Linked DNA regions of Homo sapiens. The protein of the gene in region 2 interacts with the protein of the main gene of each other region in a pairwise test. Each region holds a gene or a part of one and is shown on either strand. Other genes may lie near its edges.

Evidence for each region.
Region 1: the proteins of MEIS2 (region 2) and VGLL1 interact in binary tests that used the Homo sapiens proteins (3 or more experiments, as listed by UniProt).
Region 3: the proteins of MEIS2 (region 2) and MCCD1 interact in binary tests that used the Homo sapiens proteins (3 or more experiments, as listed by UniProt).
Region 4: the proteins of MEIS2 (region 2) and BPIFA1 interact in binary tests that used the Homo sapiens proteins (3 or more experiments, as listed by UniProt).

Annotation. Positions count from the first base shown.
Region 1 is NC_000023.11:136,535,206-136,542,241, forward strand, and holds part of VGLL1 (transcription cofactor vestigial-like protein 1), read left to right. Parts: intron 1-790; 5' UTR 791-815; coding exon 816-1,029; intron 1,030-7,036. UniProt on the Homo sapiens protein: May act as a specific coactivator for the mammalian TEFs.
Region 2 is NC_000015.10:36,894,520-36,901,555, forward strand, and holds part of MEIS2 (homeobox protein Meis2), read right to left. Parts: intron 2,168-7,036; coding exon 2,109-2,167; intron 743-2,108; coding exon 632-742; intron 294-631; coding exon of another isoform or gene 235-293; exon of another isoform or gene 198-234; intron 1-197. UniProt on the Homo sapiens protein: Involved in transcriptional regulation. Binds to HOX or PBX proteins to form dimers, or to a DNA-bound dimer of PBX and HOX proteins and thought to have a role in stabilization of the homeoprotein-DNA complex.
Region 3 is NC_000006.12:31,524,688-31,530,759, forward strand, and holds MCCD1 (mitochondrial coiled-coil domain protein 1 precursor), read left to right. Parts: upstream 1-4,274; 5' UTR 4,275-4,327; coding exon 4,328-4,498; intron 4,499-5,059; coding exon 5,060-5,248; 3' UTR 5,249-5,545; downstream 5,546-6,072. Other genes in the region: spliceosome RNA helicase DDX39B, read right to left, coding at 5,747-5,763.
Region 4 is NC_000020.11:33,238,975-33,243,821, reverse strand, and holds the end of BPIFA1 (BPI fold-containing family A member 1 precursor), read right to left. Parts: intron 4,020-4,847; coding exon 3,912-4,019; intron 3,590-3,911; coding exon 3,437-3,589; intron 2,438-3,436; coding exon 2,353-2,437; intron 1,767-2,352; coding exon 1,703-1,766; intron 1,336-1,702; coding exon 1,295-1,335; 3' UTR 1,261-1,294; exon of another isoform or gene 1,153-1,260; intron 738-1,152; exon of another isoform or gene 716-737; 3' UTR 516-715; downstream 1-515.

The DNA.
Region 1 (7,036 bases), on a different chromosome or scaffold from region 2:
TTCAATACACAGCTATTGAGCATCTACTCTATTCCAGGCACTGTTCTAGATACAAAAGATGTGCTGGGGAACAGAGCTGACAATCTTACAATCTTTCAGGAGGTTTCCACCAATGGTGACAACATTGGTATAAAAATGTTTTTTTGTACATCTGCATTTTGTTCAGAATATATCTGTTGGAGTCCTTAGAGATGGTGTTGTTTGTAATTGCTAGTTTCTAAGATGGGATGCGGGTAGGTGTAGGACACAGTCTTACATAGATTAAGGCGTCAGGGGAGTAGGAGAATTTGATGTGTTTACTCCTCTGCGTGCGAGTGGTCAAGATGGAAAGCAATGCCTACTATTGAAATTGTCAAGCACCGACTGGATTGCCTGGTCAAGCTCTCCATGGGAGCCCATGGTAGTTCTGGGCCAACCTTGGCTCATTCGTTTAGGAGAAAGGCACTTCCCCAGGAGGCAAGTTACTCTGCTATTTGGCCTCAATGTCCTCCCACCTCCCCATTTCCTGATGCTCTCTCTAGTCAGGTTGCCTGATCATTCTCATTTGTAAGAGAAGGCCCCTTCTCAGCACTTCATGGAGATTTGTCATGTTGTCCCTTGAAGACTGATTAGACAAGGCTTCTCAACAGCATCGTCATTGACCTTTAGGAGCTATGTGGCTCCCTGGGGCCCCAGTGAGCACGTGTACCTGGTGGGAGCAAATTGCTTGCCCCCAAGGACACTGCTCACCCAAACCACAGCCAAGCCACTTGGTAAATAGTGCCAGTGACATTTTGCCTTTGGTCCACAGCTGTCACCTGTGTCATTCACTCACAATGGAAGAAATGAAGAAGACTGCCATCCGGCTGCCCAAAGGCAAACAGAAGCCTATAAAGACGGAATGGAATTCCCGGTGTGTCCTTTTCACCTACTTCCAAGGGGACATCAGCAGCGTAGTGGATGAACACTTCTCCAGAGCTCTGAGCAATATCAAGAGCCCCCAGGAATTGACCCCCTCGAGTCAGAGTGAAGGTGTGATGCTGAAAAACGGTGAGCATGTGGGGAGGGAGGGAGCTGGGATTCCCTATCAAGGCTGCCACGGATACACCAGTTCTTTGATGTACTTGACACACTTGGACACTTATATGTTTGCTAAAGGCAAGTTGCTCTGACTAGTGAGAAGCCACACCCCTTCTTAGAAGTTTAATGTCAAAATGGGGCTGCCATCTACTGCTCCAACCTTACCTCCCCAGCACTGTCCTCCAGAAACTGGCTTCCTTCTGTCCGTCATGTTCGCTTTGATTTCTTCCTGGCCTTTGCACAAACTGTTCCTTGTCTGCAAATCTCTTCCCTCCCTTCTCCTAATTAACCCACATTCATCCCAAGATCACTTCTTTAGGGCAGCTTTCCCTGACCACCCACACCCCCAAGCATTCAAATATCCTATTACAGATTCTCCTACCGTTCTTTAACTCTCCTTCACAGCCCTTGTCACAGTTGCAGTTTTTACACTTGTATAATTATTTGACTATTGCATACTCCTCCATTAAATGAAAGTTCTGTGAGGGCAAGGACCATTGCTGATTTTGCTTAATATTGTATTTCTAGCATCTAGAAACAGTGACTGTGACATAGGGGACAACCAACAAGGATTTGTTGAATGAGTAAATGAACATACAAATATGCAAATTTGTGAGCACTGTATCTAGGTACAAAGAACCTTGAAATTTCCATAAAAGACTAAAACATAAATTAGAATCTTGCTGAATAAGCCATTAGAGCAGAAGTATGTTATGATAGTTTTTAAATGTTGATAATATTTACATTTTATATAATTTATTTCCATAAATGGAAAGTTCCCAGTTGTAGAGAGGTGGTTTTGAAAAGTTTTAAAATCAAAGCTGGCTGGGTGTGATGGTTCACACCTGTAATTCCAGCACTTTGAGAGGCCAAGGCAAGAGGATCACTTGAGGTCAGGAGTTTGAGACCAACCTGGCCAACATAGTGAGACCCTGTGTCTACAAAAAAATTTAAAGAAATTATTCAGGTGTGGTGGCTCATACCTATATCTCTGGCTACTAAGGAGGGTGATGCAGAAGGATCACTTGAGCCTGGGAGGTTGAGGCTGCAGTGGGCCATGATTGCACCACTGTACTCCAGCCTGAGTGGCAAAGCAAGACCCTGTCTCAAAAGAAAAAAAAAAAGTAAAGCTACTGGAAAAAGAAAAAAAGAAGTTTAATGTAAAAATGGGTGCTGTTTAATCAAATCAGTTCACCTATTTTATTATTTCCTCAATCATGTTAAATGCTGGGTTTACTGCTCAGCACACAATGAAACTCCACAACTATTTACTGTAATCATTATCAGTATTTTTCTTCATCTTCTGTTTTTTAGAGACAGGGTCTCACTCTGTTGCTCAGGCTGGAATGTGGTGGCGCGATCATAACTCACTGCAGCCACGAATTCCTGGGCTCATGAAATTTTCCCGCCTTAGCCTCGCAAGTAGCTAGAATTACAGGTATGCGCCACCACACCCAGCTAATTTAATTTTTTTTTTTTTTTGTAGAGACAGGATCTCGCTATGTTGCCCAGGCAGGTCTTAGATTCCTGACCTCGAGCGATCCTCCCACTTCAGCCTTCCAAAGTGCTGGTATTACAGGTGTGAACCACCACACCCAGCTAGTATTATTATCACTATTATTATTACTATAGGCCTGATGGGGCAGGAACACCAAAGCATCTATGAAAAGAAAACGCATGTCCCATGTAGGTGCTCCCAGCCTCTTCTCAACTAATAGTGCATGGTTTGGTGAGCAAGGGTAGGGGCCAGAGGGAAGTAGATGAATAGTCTTGCCACATCCCTTTCCCACCCTTCACAGGGCCAGGTGTGTCTATTTGCTAATTGTTAAGAAATAAACAGTCGTACATCTCAAAACAGTTACTTCAAGATAACTAAGTCAAAATGTGCACATCAAAATATCCAGGTTTGAAGGAAGCCTTAAACATCACACTAGCAGGGGCTGTAGTATGACTTTCACGGACCCTGGACACTTTTGTCTTCATGGACCTCCTTCCTCCACAAAAACATTAAAAGTTACATTTTATGACTGCATTGGTATAAAGATGAATATAATCCAAGCTGAGTTCATGTTTTAAATATATTCAGTATCACTGTCATATTCATTTTTTCTTCTGATTTTAAAACATTTTTGTGGGCCCCTAAAACTATTAATGGGTCCTAGGCACTGTGCCTCCTGTGCCTAATGGAGAAGTCACCCTCGCCAGCTGGATGTCACTCAATATGGCTCCCTTTACCTTTTTGGAAAGTGAGCAAATATATCAGGGTCTGGTGGATTTCAAGAGCTCTTTATTGGTGTTGGTGAGTGCACATGTTGAACGACTTGCTCCCACTGGAAGACGTACGTACCTCCAAGTAGGGGCTTTTGTGTAAAGTGGACAAGTGGGGCCTCTGCCTCCAGGCAAAGAGCTCCCCTGTTTCCAGATGCCATCATTCTGGCTTTGCTTTTTGGGACTGGAGAGGGAGTTGATGTGTATCTGATGTATTCACCTTTGCAGAATTTACTTCTCTCTTAGAATTTACTTTTGCAGTCAATCAATGTGGTTTTCTCAGAGAATCTTGTGGGTTAAATAAATATGTGGAAGGGCATGGGGTAGCAGCAGATACTAAAGGAAATGATGTAGAGCTTGCTGTTAAAATGGGCAGGAGGGGGTGGGTGGGGAGTGGGGAGGTGATGTCTAAGAGTGTGCTGAATAATCACAACAGAAGCAGGAATGACCATGGTCTTGAATCATTTGGGGGATTGACATGTGGTAAGAGCTGAGAAATGTGGTGTGTGGGATTCAGAAGATCTAACTGACTCCTTGGAAGTGTCAAAATCTCGGGCAGTTAATACACAGACAAGTATACTGACTTCGGCTATTTGACTCTGATTTATTTCTGAACACATTGGCTTGGATTCATTATAATCATTCCCTTGTAAGCATCATCAAGCCATGGTCTCACTTTTTCTATTCTACTTGCCTGGTAAAACCCAAGCTGGGATAAAACCAACTCTTGGCCTATTGCCCCATTTCTCTGCTTCATTTTGCAGCAAAACTCAAAATTGGTATTTATGTGTACTCTGTCCTTTCCTCTCATGCTCTCTAAACTCCATTCCACTCATGCTTTCAACCTCATCACTCCTTGAAATCGCTCTTATCAAGGTTACCCAGTGACCTCCACTTTCCAAATCCAATGGTCCCTATCTGTCCTCATCTGATTTGACCTATCATAACATTTGCTGCAGAAGATTGCTCTCTCCTCGTGAAATACCTACTTCGCTTGCAGTCAGCCCATAACATTATGCTTTCTTGGTTTTCCTCCTGCCTCCCTGGTTACTATTTCTTCTCAGTCTCCTTTGCTATATGTCCTTCTCTCTCCAACTTCTAAACATTTCAGGGCCCCAGTACTCAGGTCCCAGACAACTCCTTTCTCTGTCTACACTTACTGTCTTGGTCTTAAATGCCATCTATATGTTGAGCAATTCCAAATGCATATCTGCAAACCAGAATGGATTTCAGACGTGCCTGTCTAACTGCCTACTTGATCTTCACTTAACATGCCTAATAGGAAACTCAAACAAAATAGCTCCCAAACTGAATAAACTCTTAATTTCCCCCTCAACCTGCTCTGCCCACAGTCTTTCCCATCTCAATAAATGGGAGCTGCACCCTTCCAATTCCTTGAAGTCATGCTTAACACCTCTCTGTCTCACACCCCACATCCAATCCTTTTGGAAATTGTGTAGGTTCTATCTTCAAAATATCCAAGATCTGACCGCATCTTCTCACCTCCGTTGTCACCTGGGTCCTAGAAGCTATCATCACCCCCCGCTGAATTGCTGCAGTCACCTCCTAATTGGTCTCATTGCTTCTTCCCTTCCTCTCCTTCAGTCTATTCTTAGGAGGGCAGTCAGAATGGTAGCATTAAAATGAAAGTCACACACTAGCACTCTTTTGTTTGAAACCCTCTGACAGCTTCCCATGTCACTTGGAATCATATCCAAAGTCTATAATGGGGCCCTACCTCATCTGGGCCCCCGTTGTCTTACTGATCTCATATCTTACCACTTTCTGCCTCACCCGCTCCAGTCTAGGCTCCTTGGTATTCATAAACTATGCCAAGGACAATCCTGCCTCAGGCCTGCCCTTTGCACATGGTCTCTCCTATCCCTGGAATGCTCTTTCCCCAGATACCTGCATGGCGTCACCTTTCTCCATTCAAGTCTCCACCTGGATGTCACCACTTCAAACAGTCCTTGTCTGAGCAACCTATTTAAAAAATGAAAGCCCCCACCCTCTCACGTCTGTCTTCTTACCCTGCTTCATTTTTCTTCTTAGCATTTGTCACCACCGGGCACATTATATGTTGTATTTCTTTCTAGACTCCTCTCTCCCCTTACCCTCTGAGCTCCGTGGCAGTAGGGACTCAATCTGTTAACTGCTGCTTTCTAAGTACCTACCACAATGCCTGACACATGGAGGCACTCAATACATACGGCTTGAACGAATGAAATTATGATTTTGATCACAAGGTGTTGACCCTACAGATGGGGGTCACCGTAGAGAGGGAGTACGGTGTGGTGTACAGCTTTAGAACCACTCAGCATGGGGCCAAGCCAGCTCCATCACTTACTAACAGTGTGATCTCCAGACATATCACTTCTCCTCTCTGTGCCTCAGTTTCCTCATCTCTAAAATGGAATAATATTGAATTATAGGACTGTGCTTGTGAGGAGTCAATGAGATAATGCATGTCAAGTGGCACATAGTAAGTGCAATGTAGTCCAAGCTTGAGTTGAGTTTTTGAACAGCTAAGATAGATGTGAGGACCTGTGTTCACAACACCAGGTTCACAGAGCAGCAGGCATCTCCCATAAGCCTCCAGGTTTTCAGGGGGTTCTGTTTCATGGCTGCCATAGAGTTTCCTGTGCCTTCTGATTTCACCTCGACCTTCTGTGAAACCCCTGCCTGCTGAGGGAAGTTGGGCATGGCCCTGTTCCTTGCCCAAGCCAGCCTTCACAGGCCAGATAGAGAGGTGGCTTGGTTCTCCATCTTCCTTCTTGGTTGTTGCATTTTCCCTATAAGAACCCCACAAATCCTTTGACTGTGAAGATGTTGTCTCCCTCACAGAGTGTGGTGCGGGCTAGGCAAATATTTGTCCGCTGATTGAGCAAATGAAGGAAAAACTGCCTCCCTCAAAGCCTCTCTTATCACCACTAGGAGTCAAGTTTCTCATAAGCTCTGCTGCCTCAGGGGAGGGCCCCATGAAAGGCTTCCAGTCCCACAGAGGTTCTCACTGGAGGTGTTATATGACATACATATGGCTTTGAAAATGGTGGGAAATCTTTCAAGTGGCCTTTCATTACTGACTGTTAGTATCCTCTCAAACCCTACAGACCAGCACCAGGCCGTCCAGCCCAGCTAGGCCATTCCAAGGAGAACAGGCTCCCATTCATGGGCTCCCATGGCCGACTCGCCCACATTCTAAGGGCTCTCTGTTGAGCCAAATATGCAAGTCCCAAACACAGAGACCCGTGTGGCTAGGAAATGCCGTCAAATTTCCTGGCTTCTCTTCCCCAATCAGTGTTGTGTTTTTATTTACTTATGTATAATTTATACTGGCTGTACTTCAGAAAAGAAAATACAAGTTGAAGGTATCTTTGAATTATCTCCCTTTTAAAAGGACATTGGGAATTTTAGAATCAGTAACTAGAGAAGCTTCAGTAACTATAGTTTGTAGGGGGCATGGTCCTGGTACGTATGCCACCCTGTGTTCTTCTTGTCCTGTCCCCAGCCCCAGTCCTGAGGCCGGCCTCAGGCCTGGCAACATTGCTCTAGGGCTGCTGAGAGAAGGTGAGAGGGTATATACGTGGGCCTTTAGAGGTCTCAAAGGATCCAGCCTCCTTCTCTCTCCCCTCCCATCTGCCATAATCAGTAAGGGTAGGGAAGAAATGCTGGCTTTTTTTAAAAAAAAAAAGTGTAAATATCTATGTGA
Region 2 (7,036 bases):
TCAGTTGGCCTTTTCAAAAGTGCACATCAGTGTCATCTGTGACTTCAGAGATGGGTGATATATATTTAAAAACAGGTCCTTAGTTTGGAAAGGCATGCAGTTATGGGCAAGGAAAAATAAAATGGGGGCAAATTATAAAAAATAAAATAAAGTCTCTGAAGTGATAGTGAAGACAGATCGCACCCGACTGTACTTACTTCCCCCTTGCTTTGCGATTGCTTTACATGATGAAGGTTACATGTAGTGCCATTGCCCATCCATGCCCATATTCATGCCCATTCCACTCATAGGTCCTAGAAAGGAGATAAAATCCAAGAAGAGGCCGGAAAATCAGCAATAATTGATGGTGAAAAAATAGAAGGAAACTCAGATTCCTTTTCACTTATTGCCTTGGTTTAAAAAGAAAAAAGAAAAAGGATGTGTATGGGGCAGAGTATAATGGTACTGTGGTAAAATCTTTACTTTTTCAAAGAGGAATTTTTTCCCCCACCCAATGTAAAGAAAGCAGGCAGAGCAGGCAGCAGGCAAATGTTAAACCCACCATGACAGTGGGATAGTAGAGTGGATGGAGAGGCTGGTGGAGCAGGTGGCACTTCCCAGGGAAGCCCAGAGGCGGGATGAGCCAACCTACCTGCAGGCCGGATCCCCATGTGTTGCTGACCATCCAACACAAAGCTCCCCATGGGCTGACCCTCTGGACTATATGCTGCTCCTTGGCTCACTGAAGGATCAAGAAGAAAACCTGATTGTGGTCATTCGAGGACACAGAGGAGAAAGAAGAAAAGATATACCAAACAATCAGCAATTGTTCCCGCTGCAGCACTGAAACGTTATAGCAACAATGTGGTTGGCACTCTACAAATGGGGGTGTGGTTTGTCTGAGTGTCTTGATGACTGAGTGAAGGTGTGTGAGTAGCTTTAAAAATGTTCTGGAAGAAAGACTTCACTGGCCAGTTTCCCAGGGGGTTCGTCCTCTGCAGCCCTTGCTTTTTTACTTATCTCTTGATTAGGGGGACGAAGGCTGGAGAAGTTAGGGGTACCCCATATACAAATATTGCAATGTACCATTTGGTTGGGATTCTCTGAGGCTGCCATCTCTGGTGGCTTAATACAAAATGTTCATATTTTACACAAACATTTTAAACCTGAATACAATTTCACAAGGTTAAATAGACTCAATTAAAAGCTTGCCTTTTTATTCACACCAAGGAAATATAAACTTAGTAAATATAATATTTCCATTGTTTTATGTTCTTCTCCCTAGCCTCCAATAGTGGGAACATATTTTGGCGTTATTGGGGAAATTTTGCCAAAGGATGACTAATTTTCACAAATCCTTTAAAGCGAGGCCACAGGTAAAATCTCCATCAAGTTTAACACCGTTGTTAGTGGCAGCAGTCATCACCCCAAGGAAAACTGTTTTTCCCTATAAGCCTTATTGCAGGAGACCACAAACCCTCAGTAAACTGAGGAAATGTCTGTTTCAAAATAAAACGACTTGGAGTATACCAGGAGGGTTCTGATAGTACCATACAAAAACTGTTTTAGAGAAATTGAGAGAATTCTGAGAAAAGCTCACATGTATTTTAGCAGCATGGATGTGAAGCATTTTATACAAAGGTAATATTCTTTAATAAAAAATAATGGTGGCAATGCAGCAAGTCAGGCTTTAATAGGATATTATGAATAGCCAAAGCAAATGAATGGATACAATAAGTTTAACAGCAGATGCTACAGAAAGGAAAGCCTAGCATACACCAAGGAGCTGTGGGTAACAGAAAAATGAGAGTGTGCTAATGATTGGATGCAGACAAGCAAGGGGTAATGCCAGAGCTCACAAACACGCTGCTTGTGGCATTAATACCTGTGCCCAATTACCAATTCAGAAAGAAAATAAAAAGCAGTGTCAGTAGAGTCAGGGTGGGAAATCTCCAATTAGCACCACTTACTGAAGTTGCTTCCTTGAGTGGGATTCTGGGGACATTAAAAAAAAAAATCCAGAATGCCTGGTGGAAGCACTTATTTATCAGATGAGGAAACTACTGGAGTATAACTTGATGAGGATTTGTGCCTGTGGGACATAAATATAGATACTACTTGGAACTTGCCTGCTCGATTTGACTGGTCAATCATGGGCTGTACTATTCTTCTTCTGGCATTAATAAACCTGAAAGAGAACAGAGAAGTCCAGTCATCATACTCCGTTTCTGTACTCTGCGAACACCTTTGCATGAATGCTGAGGAGCACAAAATACAGTCAAATCTCTTCTGAAAATTATCTTTTCAATTTAAAGGTGATTTTCCCTTTCAGCGTTCAAAAATAGTTGACTGGGTAATCTCCGTCGTCACTGCGTAGTCAACTCCAAAACAACTTGCTAGAAGAGCTCAGGGACGGAATAAAGTTCTCCATGAGAAAGCTTCTATTAACTTCAAATTGTGCTTCTGCTTCTTGCACAAGTAGGAATCTGGTTAAAGTTCACAGGCTGGAAGACTTTCCCCCTTTCCCTAGACTCCCCGTGATAGGGAGACCCAGCTTCCCCTTGCAGCTGGTCATAAATGGAGACCAGGCTCTAGCACTCGGCTTTCACAAGGTATTGTTAGGTCAGCAAAGCCATCAATTAGGCTGTCTGAAGTTTTATCACCAACACAGCAGTAATAAGTGCTGGCCAGAAAGACTTCTGCTCTTCGGCAACTCCTGCAGTTTAAGCCTGTAAAGTTAGGGGTCATTCAGAGGTCAGTGCCAGCTGGGGGCAGCCTTTCCAGCCTAAGCTGGGACACCCAGGGCAGAGGATAAGGTAACTGCCAACCATAAACCCAGCCACCTTTCAACCCACTAGAAAGACAGAGCCTCAGGTACACATGTTTGATATTAGAGCTCAAGAAACGTTTGCAAATCAGGTGGTGGCTGAATCGCAGGAATGCAAAGGAGAAGCAGTTATTTCATCTAAGAAGCCTGGATCTAATTTTGTTGGAAATCCAAAAATAAGTGCCTACTTCATGTTACTTTAATGTTTAATAATGCCCATCAAATATTCATGTACAAACAGAGTAAGATGATAAGAAATCTCCTTTATTTCTCCAAATTTAATAAAAACAAAACAATTTTCTACCATTTGTGAGTTACCCTTGTCCCTGTGCACTTAACGACGTGTATTCCCCACACATTTGAGCTCATGCACACGATTCACTGACCACGCATTTCGGAGGAGCAGGGAGCATCCAGCTAGCTTCTCCCTAAAAATATACCCATTGATAACATCTGTCAATATTTCCAGTTTCAGATCTTAAGCACAGGGGGACTTCATGATTAATGAGTCCACCTGGGGCCACAGGCAGGAACTGAAAACTCACTCTTTGAAATTAGCCAGAAAAATTCAGTGTGTGCTGGCAGCTCTGTGTTCCGAGGAAGCTGAAGTCCCTTTGGAGGAGGACAGTCAGGCCCCACTCGGTCGGGCCTCCTGTGAGCACTCTGGTGGGAATACAATTAAGCTGAGGAATAATAGCTGGGAGAAAACCAAAGGAGTCTTTTGCATATGGTGTTTGTTTGCAAAACAATGGACTTCTTTATTACTTAAGAAAGTGTAGCTCAGTTGTCAAAAAAGAAAGTGATCAGCTATGTAGAGGTGAAAACAAAAGGAGAGTTGAAACTGCATCTTTCTTCCCACCTGTCACCTGAAATGTTGCTGAGGAATGAATATCTGACTAGATCACAAAGACTTCCAGAAGCATCCCTCCTCCAATCAGAAAAAGAACTTAATTATCTACTCTTTCCCCACCACTTTTACAGCAACCAAGGAGGACTGACCTGATATTTCCACCCCAGGAACCGTTTTTATCAGCTCACCTTGAAACCAGCAGAGATGCTCAGGAGGGTCAGAGAAGGCTCTTCTCCTTGAAGTTTCTAATAGAGGACAACACTCGGCAGGGGTTTTACCCCCTTTTATGTGCTACTAATCCTGGTTTTTGTGTTTTGCGTTTTTTATTTTTATTTTTTTTTCGGTATAGGCTAACTCTTCGGGTAAAACGAATTGCTATTTTTTTCCCTTTTTAATTTCACTCTTTTATTCTTTACATCTGGAGGTTGTTCCCTTATTTATGTCTTTCTCTCCAGTTCCCCCAAACACTCCCTTACTCACAGAGCTGCAAGGCATCATGGTTCTTAGTTCTCAGCAGGAGAACTCCACACTGTCTTCAAACAAATACTTACGGGGAAGGTTAGAGGTTCACTCAAAGGTCATTTCTTTGGATACTAGTCAGAATGTTTACATTAGTAAAAACGAGGTCCGCTCAAAAGGTTGTTCAATGGGGGACACACAACAATGCAGAACATTAAAAAAGCATTCTGTGAGCTAGCAGGTCTTTATAGAAGCACTGAACTTGGAAATGCCACTCCAGTATAACATTTTCAACTAGTTACCATGGCATGGACTGGATGTTCACTAGCAGTTATGGCAATGGCCTTTCTTTACCCACTTCTCCTAAGCAAATATGAATAGAAGCCTCTGAAGGTTTTCACTAGGTCCTTTTAAAAAGGGTCACAGAGATTTTGCTTTTTTCACTTGGGCACCATTTAGCCTCTCTGGATTTTTGTTCTCAAACAATGTTTTTGATCCATAGTGCTATTTCTTGACAGATTCATAATTCTACCACATTCTTTCAAATCACACAGAATTTTAAAAACATATGGGCCCCAAATTTTCAGAAATCTCTTAACATGCAACTCCTGCCAATTGTCAATTCCCCTGATCTTGGGATATTTTATTGACATCATAGATATTACTATGAAAATTAACAATTAATGAGCTGACTGTAAGAAAACCCTGACATTAAAAAATGAAATTACCGCCTCCTACCAGTACTGATGACTCAGAGGCCACTCTTAGAAAATACACTGACATACATAACATGGAGCCATTTAAATTATAGACTAAAACAAATCAAACTAGAAATAATTTTTATTTATTTAATATTTGTAAGATGAAATTTCCATATATGGTCTTTTCTCAAAATTACATGAAATAAATTTTTTTCCACATCTTCTAATCTATATTTTTTAGAATGACCTTTTTCAATGCTCAAGTAGTAAATAGAATATCAAGCTTTGATTTTACGTAAAATTTGAAGAAGCTAAGTTGAAAATCAACTCATCTTCAGTCTTTCAAGGTTCAGGCTCCATTCATATGGAAAAATGTAACTTGCTGGTTCAAAGACAAAAGACTTGTCTTAAAAAGACTCAAAAGGTTCCATGGATATTAAATGGGCCTTATAAAATAACATTTTGATGAGTTAAGTGTAAATGAATCAGACACATATGGATTAAGTTATCCTTGAATTTCACACGGGTTTAAAAAATAAGGGGAAAAGAGGGTCTTGGCAAAAAACATTTTGGACTTTGCCAAACCCAAAACATTTGAAAAATTGCTGAAGACATCCAACTAACCAAAATGCAGCAAGCTGCACCCAACTTTAATGAAAACCCCCACAAGTTATTTCCAATCCAAAGACTGTTAGATTTTTCATCTGTATCTGATATTAAAAAATTCTCTAAGTTTTAATGTCATACCAGAATGATTTCGAAGTTGCAGGCATATAATCTACTTTTCTATCGGTTTAAACAATTTAAGTTACAAAGTCTTCTTCAATATTAAACAGTTCTTAAAAAACATTCTGAGTTTTTTTACAACTTGTCCATAAAATGTACCAGTAAGCTTAGTGTCTAGCTCTATCTAGATTTCACTTAGAAAAAAAATTTTCATTAGCCTCATTGTGACTTTTTTTAAAGGGCTACACATAATTTCATTAGTGAGTCCTTAGGGAATGAATACCCTAAAGAGCCCTAGTTCCATTGATTTGTATTGAACACAAAGTTAGTATCCAGGCCCATACAAAAGCTTGGGAGAGTATCTACTAAGACTATCTACTTTTTCTCTAAATTTTACTTAAGTAGAAAATGCATGAGTATGTGTGATCCTTAAAAATTATATACTAAGACTGTTAGTTTAAAAATAACTTAATTATAGAAATAAATTCAATGATGTTCCAAGAATCACGAGGCCTTTCTGACTCAACTCAGAGATGAAAAAATACATTAAAACAAATAAACCCAAGGTAGCAAATATCACTGTAATCTCATCTTACTGCCTTGCTGAAGAGCTATTTCCCAGAGACCTCTCCTGTCCTCAGAAAGTCTAAACTTGGTAGCTTTGCATACTTTTCTACAACTGAACTCTGACCATCATGATTTTTCTTTAAAGACTTTTTACTCCGAAGTATGGTTCAGATTGATAGAAGTAGATTTAGGTGTCATTCCTGTTTGTTGTTGGTTTCTTTTCTTTATTCCTTTCTTTCTCCACCCCCCAATCTTTTTAAATGGCGGATAAATCCCTTCTTTCTGGTTCACTAACTTCATGCCACACCTGGTAACCAACTCCTTTTGGAGGCATTCCTTTTGTTAGAAAGTGCAGGCCTCCATGGAGTTACCTGGAAAGCTGCCATCCCTGAACACTCTGAGGAGGAATCAAGAATAGCTGGAATTGAAGATTCTGCATGGATTGCTTTGCGCAGGGAAGGGGACTGAACCGTTGAAGAGAGATCAGATCAACTGGGGAAAGGCGTAGGTAGCTCAGTGACCGGGGACCTGTTAAAACATGAAAAGGCCCTGCTTCCCTACTGTCCCCAGCCCTGGGACCCATCAGCCACAGTGCTTATTCACAGCACTTGCTCCTGGCTGGTGTTTCAAATGATGAAACTTCAGCCTTGGCAAGTCACTTATCAAATTTCTCCATGTTTTCTTACTTTACAAAAAAAGCAAGTATTTCTCTGTGCTATGGTTACAGCTGAGAGTAGGATTTTCTCAGTAAGATACATTAAAATGGTTAAATCAGTGAATAAGGCAAGCTTAATGCCTTTGAAGATGAACTTGGGCACGCAAATGATGGAGTCATGTCGCAGACATAAGTTTTCCACTGGTGACCAGACAATGGCTCCTTTCTCACAGACAACCGTGAGCAAAGTAAGGTAAATGAATGAGATTCAT
Region 3 (6,072 bases), on a different chromosome or scaffold from region 2:
AGTGCTTTCTTAATTAAGTTCCCACAGGTGAACAAAGCCAAAATTCAGATTCTATTTTATTTATGGTTTAGAATTACCTACTGTGAAAAAAAAAAAAAACTAGCTACTATAAATTATTGGGGGTTAGTCCATTTAGTCCATTTTGGAGTTCATAACCTAAAGCAGAAACTCACATGGTTGAAATGTCACTTTCCCAAAGGATTGTTATTAGTGTATCATTTAGATTGTCTTGCAAAAGTCTCATTTGTTGTTTTTTCTAAATGGCTGCTAATCTTTTAAATTAACAGATAGAGGGCCAGGCACGGTGGTTCACACCTGTAATCCCAGCACTCTGGGAGGCTGAGGCAGTCGGATCACTTGAGGCCAGGTGTTCAAGACCAGCCTGGCCAACATGGTGAAACCCTGTCTGTACTAAAAATACAAAAATTAGCTCGGCATAGTGGCACACGTCTGTAATCCCAGCTTCTTGGGAGGCAGAGGCATAAGAATTGCTTGAACCCGGCAAGCGGAGGTTCCAGCAAGCAGAGATTGTGCCATTGCACTCCAGCCTGGGTGACAGAGCATTGCTCTGTCCACCTCCCAAAAATGTAGTTAATTTTTTTTCTTTTCTTTTTTTTTTTTTTTTTTTTTTTTTTTTTTTTTTTTTGAGAGACGGAGTCTTGCTCTGTCGCCCAGGCTGGAGTGCAGTGGCACAATCTCAGCTCACTGCAACCTCCGCCTCCCAGGTTCAAGCAATTCTCCTGCCTCAGCCTCACAAGTAGCTGGGATTACAGGTGGCTACCACCACGCTTAGCTAATTTTTTGTATTTTTAGTAGAGACGGGGTTTCATCATGTTCGCCAGGCTAGTCTTGAACTCCTGACCTTAAGCGATCCCCCTGCCTCGGCCTCCCAAAGTGCCGGGATTACAAGCATGAGCCACTGCGCCCGGCCAACTTTCAATGTTAATTAGTTGTGGTTTGTTTAACCATATACTGCATAGTTTCGCTTATCTATAATAACAGTAGTTTGGGGCTCTTATATTCTAATAATTAAGACTTTAGCTGTGTACACATTGCAATTAAAGTATGAGTCATGCATAACCTTATCACCAAGATACAAGAGGGAAAGCCCTTCTCCCCTTAAACTTTTACAAAGGTTCTGGGTTCTTTTTCCACTTAAGTGGGAAAAAGTCAGCTAATGAGGAACGTAAAGTCTTTGGCCTCATCTAAAGGTGCTTTGGCCCGCAAGTGTGAGAAGCACTGACCGCTGGGAAGTCCTCACTGCCTGGTTCCTGGACTCTTACACCATGGCAGAGGCCATCTTCCCTCCCAATGCAGAGTGATATCCAGATAGCGAGCTGGCTAGCAGCTGTCCACTCTCCAGCAATCCTGCCTTCTGGGGCATGGTTTTCTAAGGACCTTCCTGTTCCTAGATGATCAAAATTGGGACCAGCCACTCCCTTCTGAGCCACTCCTGCCTCTGGGCCTGTGGCTATGTCACAGTCCAGTCACAACAGGACATCCCTTCAGAACACCCTGCAGGAAGCTGACATCTCTATGCAGACTCACACATGCACGGTGTGTGCACAGGCCTTTGGTTCTACTTCAGGAGGTGTTGGGGGAGGCTCACTAGTCCAACAGAACTTGAGGCCAGTTGTACCAGTGTCATATCCCAGGAGCCAAGGTTACAAGGGATACAAAGTGCCCAGACCTACCAGAGAAGGCAAACCCCTACAGCATGCAGGGCTAGACAGGGGCAAGAAACAAGGTCATTCTGGGCCAGCAAGAAGAGGGAAAGGGAAATGACAGGCATACCTCGGAGATACTGAAGATTTGTTTCCAGACCATAGCAACAAAGTGAGTCACACAAACTTTTTAGTTTCCTATTGTGCATAAAAGTTATGTTTGTACTATATTGTAGTCTGTTAAGTGTACAGTAGCATTGTGTACAAAAAACTGTGTATATACTTAATGGAGTCTCGCTCTGTCACCCAGGCTGGAGTGCAGTGCCACGATTTTGGCTCACTGCAACCTCCGCCTCCTGAGTTCAAGCCATTCTCCTGCTCAGCCTCCCAAGTAGCTGGGACTACAGGTGCCCATCACCATGCCCAGCTAATTTTTGTATTTTTAGTAGAGATGAGGTTTCACCATGTTGGCCAGGCTAATCTTGAACTCCTGACCTCAAGTGATCCACCCACCTCGGCCTCCCAAAGTGCTGGGATTACAGGCGTGAGCCACTGTATCTGGCCATATACTTTAATTTTAAAATACTTAATTGCTAAACAAATGCTAACCATCATATGAGGCTTCAGCTAATCCTGATCTTTTTGCTGGGGGAGGGTCTTGCCTCCATGGATCAGGGGCATGGCTGCTGAAGGCTGCTTTGACAACTTCTTAAAATAAGACAATGATGTTTGCCATTTGCCGCATGGATTATTCCTTTCAATATTGTTGTGCCTCAGGGAATAGGGAGGCCTGGAAAGCAGAGTCGGGAGAATGGCCAGTTGGTGAAGCAGTCACAACACACACATTTTTCCATTAAGTTTGCTGTCTTATATGAGCATCGCTCATGGTGTCCCAAAACAATCACAATAGTTAACTTCAGTAACTGATTACAGGTCACTGTAACAAGTATAATAATGAAAACGCTTGAAACATTTTGAGAATTCCACAGCGTGACATGGAGACATGATGTCTGCCTGCTGTTGGGAAAATAGCACCAATAGACCTGTTTGATGTGCTTGACACAGGGTTGCCACAAGCCTCCAATCTCTAAATAAAAAACAGCATCTGCAAAGAGCAATAAAGGGAAGCACAATAAAAGGTACATCTGCAAAGGGGAATCAGCACTTAAGCAAGGTCAGGATGAGCTTTCAAGTCAGGTGGACCTAGACATGAACCCTCCAGGCCCTACCAACAACCAGCTATGGACCTTCGAGCACATCCAGCCTAGAGCTGCCCCCAACAGACACTTCCCCAGTGAATGCTGAATGAAACCATCTGAGCCAGTTTCCTCAGGTGCAAACCAGTGAGGTAATTCCTACCTTGCAGAGTGAAGTGAGAAAAGACAGTGTTAAGAAATGCCGGGTGCGGTGGCTCACGCCTGTAATCCCAGCACTTTGGGAGGCCAAGACGGGCGGATCATGAGGTCAGGAGATCGAGACCACCCTGGCTAACACGGTGAAACCCCGTCTCCACTAAAAATACAAAAAATTAGCCGGGCGTAGTGGCGAGCACCTGTAGTCCCAGCTCCTCGGGAGGGTGAGGCAGGAGAATGGCGTGAACCCGGGAGGCAGAGCTTGCAGTGAGCCCAGATTGCGCCACTGCACTCCAGCCTGGGCAACAGAGCGAGACTCCGTCTCAAAAAAAAAAAAAAAAAAAAAAAGACACAAGACCTGTGGTAGCCTTTCCTTTCTGTCTGGCAGCAGCCACTGGGTAAACCAAGATGGTGCATACAAGTACATCCAGAAGCTATGGAAGAAGCAGTCTGATGTCATGAGCTTTCTTCTGAGGGTCCGCTGCTGGCAGTACCACCAGCTCTCTGCTCTCCACAGGGATCCCCGCCCCACCCAGCCCAATAAAGCACGCTACTGGGCTACAGCCAAGCAAGGTTATGTTACATATAAGCGCCACGGTGGCTGAAAATCTAGTTCCTAAGAAGGCAACTTAACAGCAAGCCTGTCTATCATGGTGTTAACCAGCTAGTTTGCTTAAAGCCTTCAGTCTGTTACAGAAGAGCAAGCTGGATGCCACTGTGGGGCTCTGAGTCCTGAATTCTCACTGGGCTGGTTAAAGATTCCACATACAAAGTTTTTGAGGCTATCCTAGTTGATCCATTCCATAACACTATCAGAAGGAAACCTGACACCCAGTGGTCCACAACAAGCATAGGGAGATGCGTAGGCTATCTGCAGGCCAAGAGAGCCACGGCCTTGGAAAGGGCTGTAAGTTCTACCACACTATTGGTGGTTCTCGCCATGCAGCTTGGAGAAGGTGCAATACTCTCCAGCTCCACAGCTACCGCTAATGTTTGTAAAATTCATACCTAATAAACACTAGATCAAAAAAAAAAAATCACAGACCTGTGGTAGGCTGGGCACCAGTGCTCTAAAGCAAGTTCTGCCTAAACTGGCAGGGACATTTTTCACATCAGGAACAGGAGTTGTTCCTGGACTCTGTCTGGGGCCAGGCTGGGAGAGACGTGGGGCAGAGTGGGGCAGGGGCAGGGGCAGGGCTGGGGGCTGGGGCCTGGGCAGGGCCAGGCACTCAAGTGAGGCCAAGTCCTGGAGCGAACCAGTTCCTGGTGGCCGTTGGACAGCTCACACAGCTCCCTGCCAGGTCACCCGCCATGGTCCTCCCTCTGCCCTGGCTCTCTCGGTACCATTTCCTTCGCCTCCTTCTGCCCTCCTGGTCCTTGGCACCCCAGGGCTCCCATGGGTGCTGCTCCCAAAACCCCAAAGCAAGCATGGAAGAGCAGACCAGCTCCAGAGGAAATGGGAAGATGACGTCCCCTCCCAGGGTAAGTGGCACCACAGGTAGGAACAGAGGGTGTGAGAATTTACACTGGGGTGTGGGAAAAAAAAACCCTCAATCCCACCCTGCACCACCCCACACCATGCCTACCCCTGCAGCTCTTTTCTTAGTTCAGCTACCAACTCCTCTCCCCACCTCCCCCAGCCCAGACCTCAGGGTTCCCTTCCCTCACCCCACCCCCACCCACAACAGCACAGTCCACAAAGTCCTTGAACAGGATCTATTCCCCCTCACCTAACAGTTAATTATTTCTTAGCGGGGAGGAGCAGCTGATCCTCTTTCCAGTGACCCCATATCCTTGTTCAAGGAAGCCAGTTACAGCCCCTGGGCCAGGGAACTCTATTTGCTCCCCCTACTACCACCCAGAGGCCTATGCCCAAGACAGGAAGCTACCTGGCCTTCTCAGTACAGGTGTCCTTAAACGACCGGTTCAAAAACGAATAGGGAAGGTGGAATTTCTCACTTCCAGCCACAGCCTGCAACAAAGCTTCCCAGGGCCTCAGCCCCCTGCCCTGGCTGATGCTCCCTCCCTTAATTCCCTGACCAGGGCCCTGGGACCCACCGCACAGCTGAGCTGGCCCGAGCTGAAGAGTTGTTGGAGCAGCAGCTGGAGCTGTACCAGGCCCTCCTTGAAGGGCAGGAGGGAGCCTGGGAGGCCCAAGCCCTGGTGCTCAAGATCCAGAAGCTGAAGGAACAGATGAGGAGGCACCAAGAGAGCCTTGGAGGAGGCGCCTAAGTTTCCCCCAGTGCCCACAGCACCCTCCGGCGCTGAAAATACACGCACCACCCACCAGGAGCCTTGGGATCATAAACACCCCAGCGTCTTCCCAGGCCAGAGAAAGTGGAAGAGACCACAAAGCGCAGGCAATTGGCAGGCAGTGGGGGAGCCAGGGCTCTGCAGTCTTAGTCCCATTCCCCTTTGATCTCACAGCAGGCAGGGCACCCAGGCCTTATAGGAATTCACCCTGGACCATGCCCTAAAATAACCTCACCCCAAATACAATAAAGGGACGAAGCACTTATAGATACCACAGACACATGTGTTTCATTTTTAGTTTTGTTAAAAAAAAATTCTGACAAATCAGAAATGGGGGTTCAGGAGTGGTGGTGATGCAAAAGATGGAAGCCATGGGGTGGGGGCTGTCAGGGGTGGGGGCAGTAGTGTCTCCTTCACCCCCACCCTGGTGTCCTCTCCTGAAGGACAGACGGTCACATTCCAAAATGGGCGAGTCTTCTACCGTGTCTGTTCAACTGAGAAGAAAACGTAGCATGGTCAGAATAAGGCATGAAAAGGGGAAAGTGAGGCAGGAACACACGGCACACATGCAGACACTGGTGTACTGCCTGGGTTCAGAGGACGGACGTGGGGGTGAGGGAAGGGATGTAATATGATGAGAGAAGACAAGACACCCCACATAAAGGTCAGAAAAACATCCCAACACAGCATCAAAGACCAGGGGGCATGAACCAGTCAAGTGTCCATTATGCATCAGATGCCCATGACCTATGTGATGGGATTTCGGACAAACACACTAAGGAACAGGGAGGACCTAAAGGGTT
Region 4 (4,847 bases), on a different chromosome or scaffold from region 2:
TTAAACAATTCTCTCACCTCAGCCTCTCGAGTAGCTGGGACCACAGGCACACACCACCACCCCTGGCTAATTTTTGTATTTTTGGTAGAGATAGGGTTTTGCCATGTCAGTCAGGCTGGTCTTGAACTTCTGCCCTTAACTGATCTGCCTGTCTTGGCCTTCCAAAGTGCTGGGATTACAGACGGGAGTCACGGCACCTGGCCTTCATTGTAGTTCTAATTTGCATTTCCCTAACACAAATCTGCCATTTTCATTCGTGGTGCGGCAAACTTGTATGTCATTAACTGTACCTGGAGTATTATATCTACCCTGAATGCCTTATTCCCCCTTTCTAAGGACACCTGGGAAAGCCTTCTGAAATCCACACACACTTGAACATCTCCCTGACCTGCTCAAGACTATTCAGATCTACAAAGTAAGTGCCAAACTCTATGCTATGGGCCCAACCACCCAGGCCAGGGCTGTTTCCAACCCAGGAGCCCTCAAGTAATGGTGAAGGATGACAAGGCCCCTGATGCAGAAGAAGAGCCATTTTATTAGGTGAGGCACATGGGATGTTACACACGCCTGGTGGGAAAGGAGAGGGGGCAGGTTCCTCGGAGAGAAGGCAACTGTGTCATCTTCCAGCACATGGGCCAGCCATCTGTGAGCACTGGGAAGCTGGGCCAGAGGAAATGGATTGAGCAGCAAGAAATAGTTCTGTTGGGGGAAGACCCTAATCAGGATGGAGACTCAAGGTCAGTGAGCGTTACTGATATTGACTCATCATCAAACTCATGCCCCAGAGGGACAGGAGGAGGCTGAGACCCTGGGCAAGCCATCAGGCCTGGAGTCAGGGCTCTGTGAGCATGTGTTTGAGTGAGTGTGTCTGTGTATCCACGTGTACTTATGTGTGGTGAGTCCACTGATGTGTGCATATGTGTGAGGGTGCTGGGTGAGAGTGTGTGTGTCTGTGTGTGGTGAGTCCACCAATGTGTGCATGTGTGTGAGTGTGCTGGTGTGAGAGTGTGTGCATCTGTATCAGTGGCCATGTGTCTGGGCATTTGTGTGTGTGTTTCTCTTGGTAGCTGTGTTGCTGTGCTGCCTGCATCCTTCCACCTCTGTCAGCTTTTCTGTGGATTTCTCTGTGCATCCCTGTGTGTACCTCTGTAGATGTTTGTCTCTTTCTTTGGATGTCATTGTCCCAAGCTCCCGTCTGCCTTCTACCAGGAGAAGAACAGCCAGCCCCCAAAACCCTGGGGTGTGGGGAAGGGCACTTACCAGCTCAGCAGAGGCCAGCCCCTTCCTGGAAGGCTTAGACCTTGATGACAAACTGTAGTCCGTGGATCAGCATGTCTAAACAAACAAACAAGCAATAAAAAAACAGACGACAGTTATGATCTCAACGTGAAGGAGTCCATATTCCTCAAGGTGGGGGGCCAGGGAATGGAGGCCTCTGGAGATCCGACTGTGTTCAGCATGCTTGGAGGAAGCCAGGCCTCCTTCTACCAACCAGCCCAGCTGTCCTCAGTGTCAGGGCTGAGGCAGGAGACACGGTGTCTATCTCAAAATTATCTGGATTATTCGGGGGAAAATGAAGCCCAAAATAGAGAGAGTTGAGGCCAGAGGGACCTAGTATCCTAGGGTGTGCAGGGAAAAAACTCCTTGGGGGAAGTTGCTGCTCCTGCAGAGAGGGACAGAGGGCTTGAAAGCAGGTACTTACTAACAATGTCATGCACCAGGGTGATGTCCAAGCCTCTGAGAACCTCATTGACCAGAGGGCACACCTGGCCAGGGGCAGAGAGGAGAGTTAGGCAGAGTGGCACCCTGGAGCAGCAGAATCCCTAGTGGGGGTTCTCTGGGGAAATTTCCTGTCATTTTTCTGTGTGAAAGTGATTCTAAGCAATCCCACAGATCAATGGTCACACATGCCTGAGGAGAAACTGGAGGCATGAGGGATGTTGTGAAGGGCCCCAAATCACACAACAAGCCCAGTGTTCACCCTGTGACATCACATCTGATTCTAAGTGGAGTGGAGTGCCCTGGTTATAGGAGACACCCAAGCATAGGTTGAAAGACTGTCTGTGGCCATAGAAGGCTGGACAGGGAACTTCTCCAATTTCTCAGAACAGGGGCCAATCCATTTCAGCTTCAGTGTGGACAAGCAGGGCCTGGCCTAGAGCAGAGACTCATCAATGCATTTGGAAAGATGTAAAGAAGAAACATGGACAGATGGATCAATGGACAAATAGATTGATGAATGGAAGTTACTTATCAAATTGAGGGACTCGGACCCACTTAGCTCAGGGCTTTGTTTTAGTGCAAGAAGCTCTAAAACCTGAGGATCAGGGGATCCCCACCTTGCCTACTTACGTTGCCCTGAACCAACTCAGGCAGGACTTTATTCAAGATCCCTGTGAGGCTGTCCAGAAGACCTTGAATGGGGAGGGGGCCAAGTCTGAAAGAGAAAAGTCATGGGTGATGCAGGGACCTGGAGATGGTGTGGAGAAGTCTCCAGAGGGGGCCACTGTGAACCCCACAGTCTCAACACTCAGTCACTAAAGCCGAGCCTTGTCTATCTACACCCACGTGCAGGCCAACAGCAAGGGTCTTATGTAAAGGGAGTTACATTTGTGTACAGCAGTGAACACACAGGTATGTGTAGGATAAACACATGGTTCTCAGAAAAAGCAGGTGCCAATAAGGCTTTGCAGAGTCCATAAATGAATGGATACTACTTAGTATGTAGTTGTCATTATGATCCAATGAGATGACACATGTGAAGCCCAATGTATGTGTTCATTAAAAGTTAACCACGTGGGCAACTTTTGCGTAATAGGTTTGACACAGTCTCCCCATGTGACAGGTAACTGAAATAAATAACCTAGTTAGGATCCACGTCTATTTTACCCCTTACTGGGACAAAGCACTTTCACACCTGTTATCTTGGTAGGTTCTATCAATAACTCCAGTGCAGTTCCATATTGCAGATAAGTAAGCTTAGAACTAAATTGGAGAAGCACTACCCAGGTTCACACAGGAAGCCCTCTATCCCCATTCCCCTGTAATATGCAGGGCTTAAACTCCAATTTCTTGTTGCTAGATCCAGCATAAAATTGGTTAGCTTGGTCTAAGAAGGAATAAGTACTACTTTATCTATCTATCTATCTATCTATCTATCTATCTATCTATCTATCATCTATCTATCCATCCATCTATCTATTCATCCTTCTCTCCATCAACCCAACCATCTAACCATCTGTCCATCCATCCATCCATCCATCCATCCATCCATCCATCCATCCATCCATCTTTCCACGCTCCCTCCTTCCCATCCATTTTCCCACCCTTTCAGCCTCTCACTCATCTATTCTCTCATTGTCTCAGCTTTCCAATCATCCATCCGGCATCACACCCTGTCATCTCTGGGCAGGATAAGCTGCTCCTCTGGCCTCACCCATCAAGCAGAGAAATTTGCAGGCTTCCAGGGGAATGGGTGCAGTCACCAAGGACCAGGTGGATCCTCTCCTGCTTATCTCTCACAGCTAAGATTTCTGCAGTGATGTCCAGCTTCACAGCCAGCCTCAACAGACTTGCACCGACCAGGGGCCTGCAAAGGAGACAGCCCCACTGGTATCTAGCTCCACCACATTCCAAGGAAGAGGGTTATTTTCTCCTTGCCAAGAATGCTAGCCTCACCTCACTCCATCTTGCCCACAGTTGTACTTATCTCATTTTCTAGCAGGAGAAACAAAGACTTAAGAGGTCAAGTGAGTTTCCCAAGTGACCCAAGGCCACTTAGCATAGCAGCAAATGAGCTGAAGTTGGAGGCTCAGGTCTGTTAGACTCCAATACCCCCGTTATGGTTAACCATGGTCACCAGGGTCTCCCTCGGTGAGCCATCCTCTCACCCCCTCTTGGGACCCACTCACGTATTCACTTGGAGCTTTATGCCGAGAGGGATGGTGACATAGAGACGGTGGCCATCAGGGCTCTGCACAAGGCCAAGTTCCAGCAGCTGGGGGTCAGTGACCTTTATGCTGTCCAGGGAGTAATATTGGAGGGGGAAACATTAGCTCCTCTAGCTCCAAACCCAGAAACCATCTTTAACCTAACAGTACCCATCCCAGAGGTAGAGCTTCCCACCCAGGATAGGGAGATGGGAGGGGAGTCTTGCAGCCTAAGCCACGTGGGTTCTGAGTCACACACTAGGTCTTTTCCAGCCTCTGCCCTGGAACAGATCTGACACACACACAGGGCCCTTTCCTTATCTCCAGTCTATGAGGTATTCAGGACAACAACTGTGTCTGGATTATATCTGCATCCTGTATGCCAGCTAAGAGCCTTACAAAGAAAGTGGCTACTTCATATTAGTTGACTGGATTGATGGGAAGGTGGGTAGTGGATATGTGGGTACATGGATGGAAGAGTAAGTGATTAGGTAGAAGGATGGATAACTGGATGATGGATTGGTCAGTGGATGAATGGATGATGCAGGTGCAACTGGAAGTAAATCTGCACAAACATTTATGGGTAAGAATCACTCACCCTGTCAGGTGGCCAATCACCAATGTTTATCATGGGAATTGAGGAGCAGGAAGTCAGGGAGAGTGCAGAAAGGGTGGAAGGAAGCCATTCTCCCATTGTCCTATCTTTCCAACCATCCATCCATCATCACACCCTGTTGTCTCCAGGAGAAGCCAGGCCTGTGACCGCACCCATCAAGCAGGGAGGCCATTTGATGGGTGAGGCCATTCACTGAGCCAGCCACTGCGCCAGGTGATTTACACCTTTTCCAGTCCTCACAATACACTTTCTCTGTGGGTTCTATAATCTATATTTTACAGATGGAGAAACCAAGCACAGAG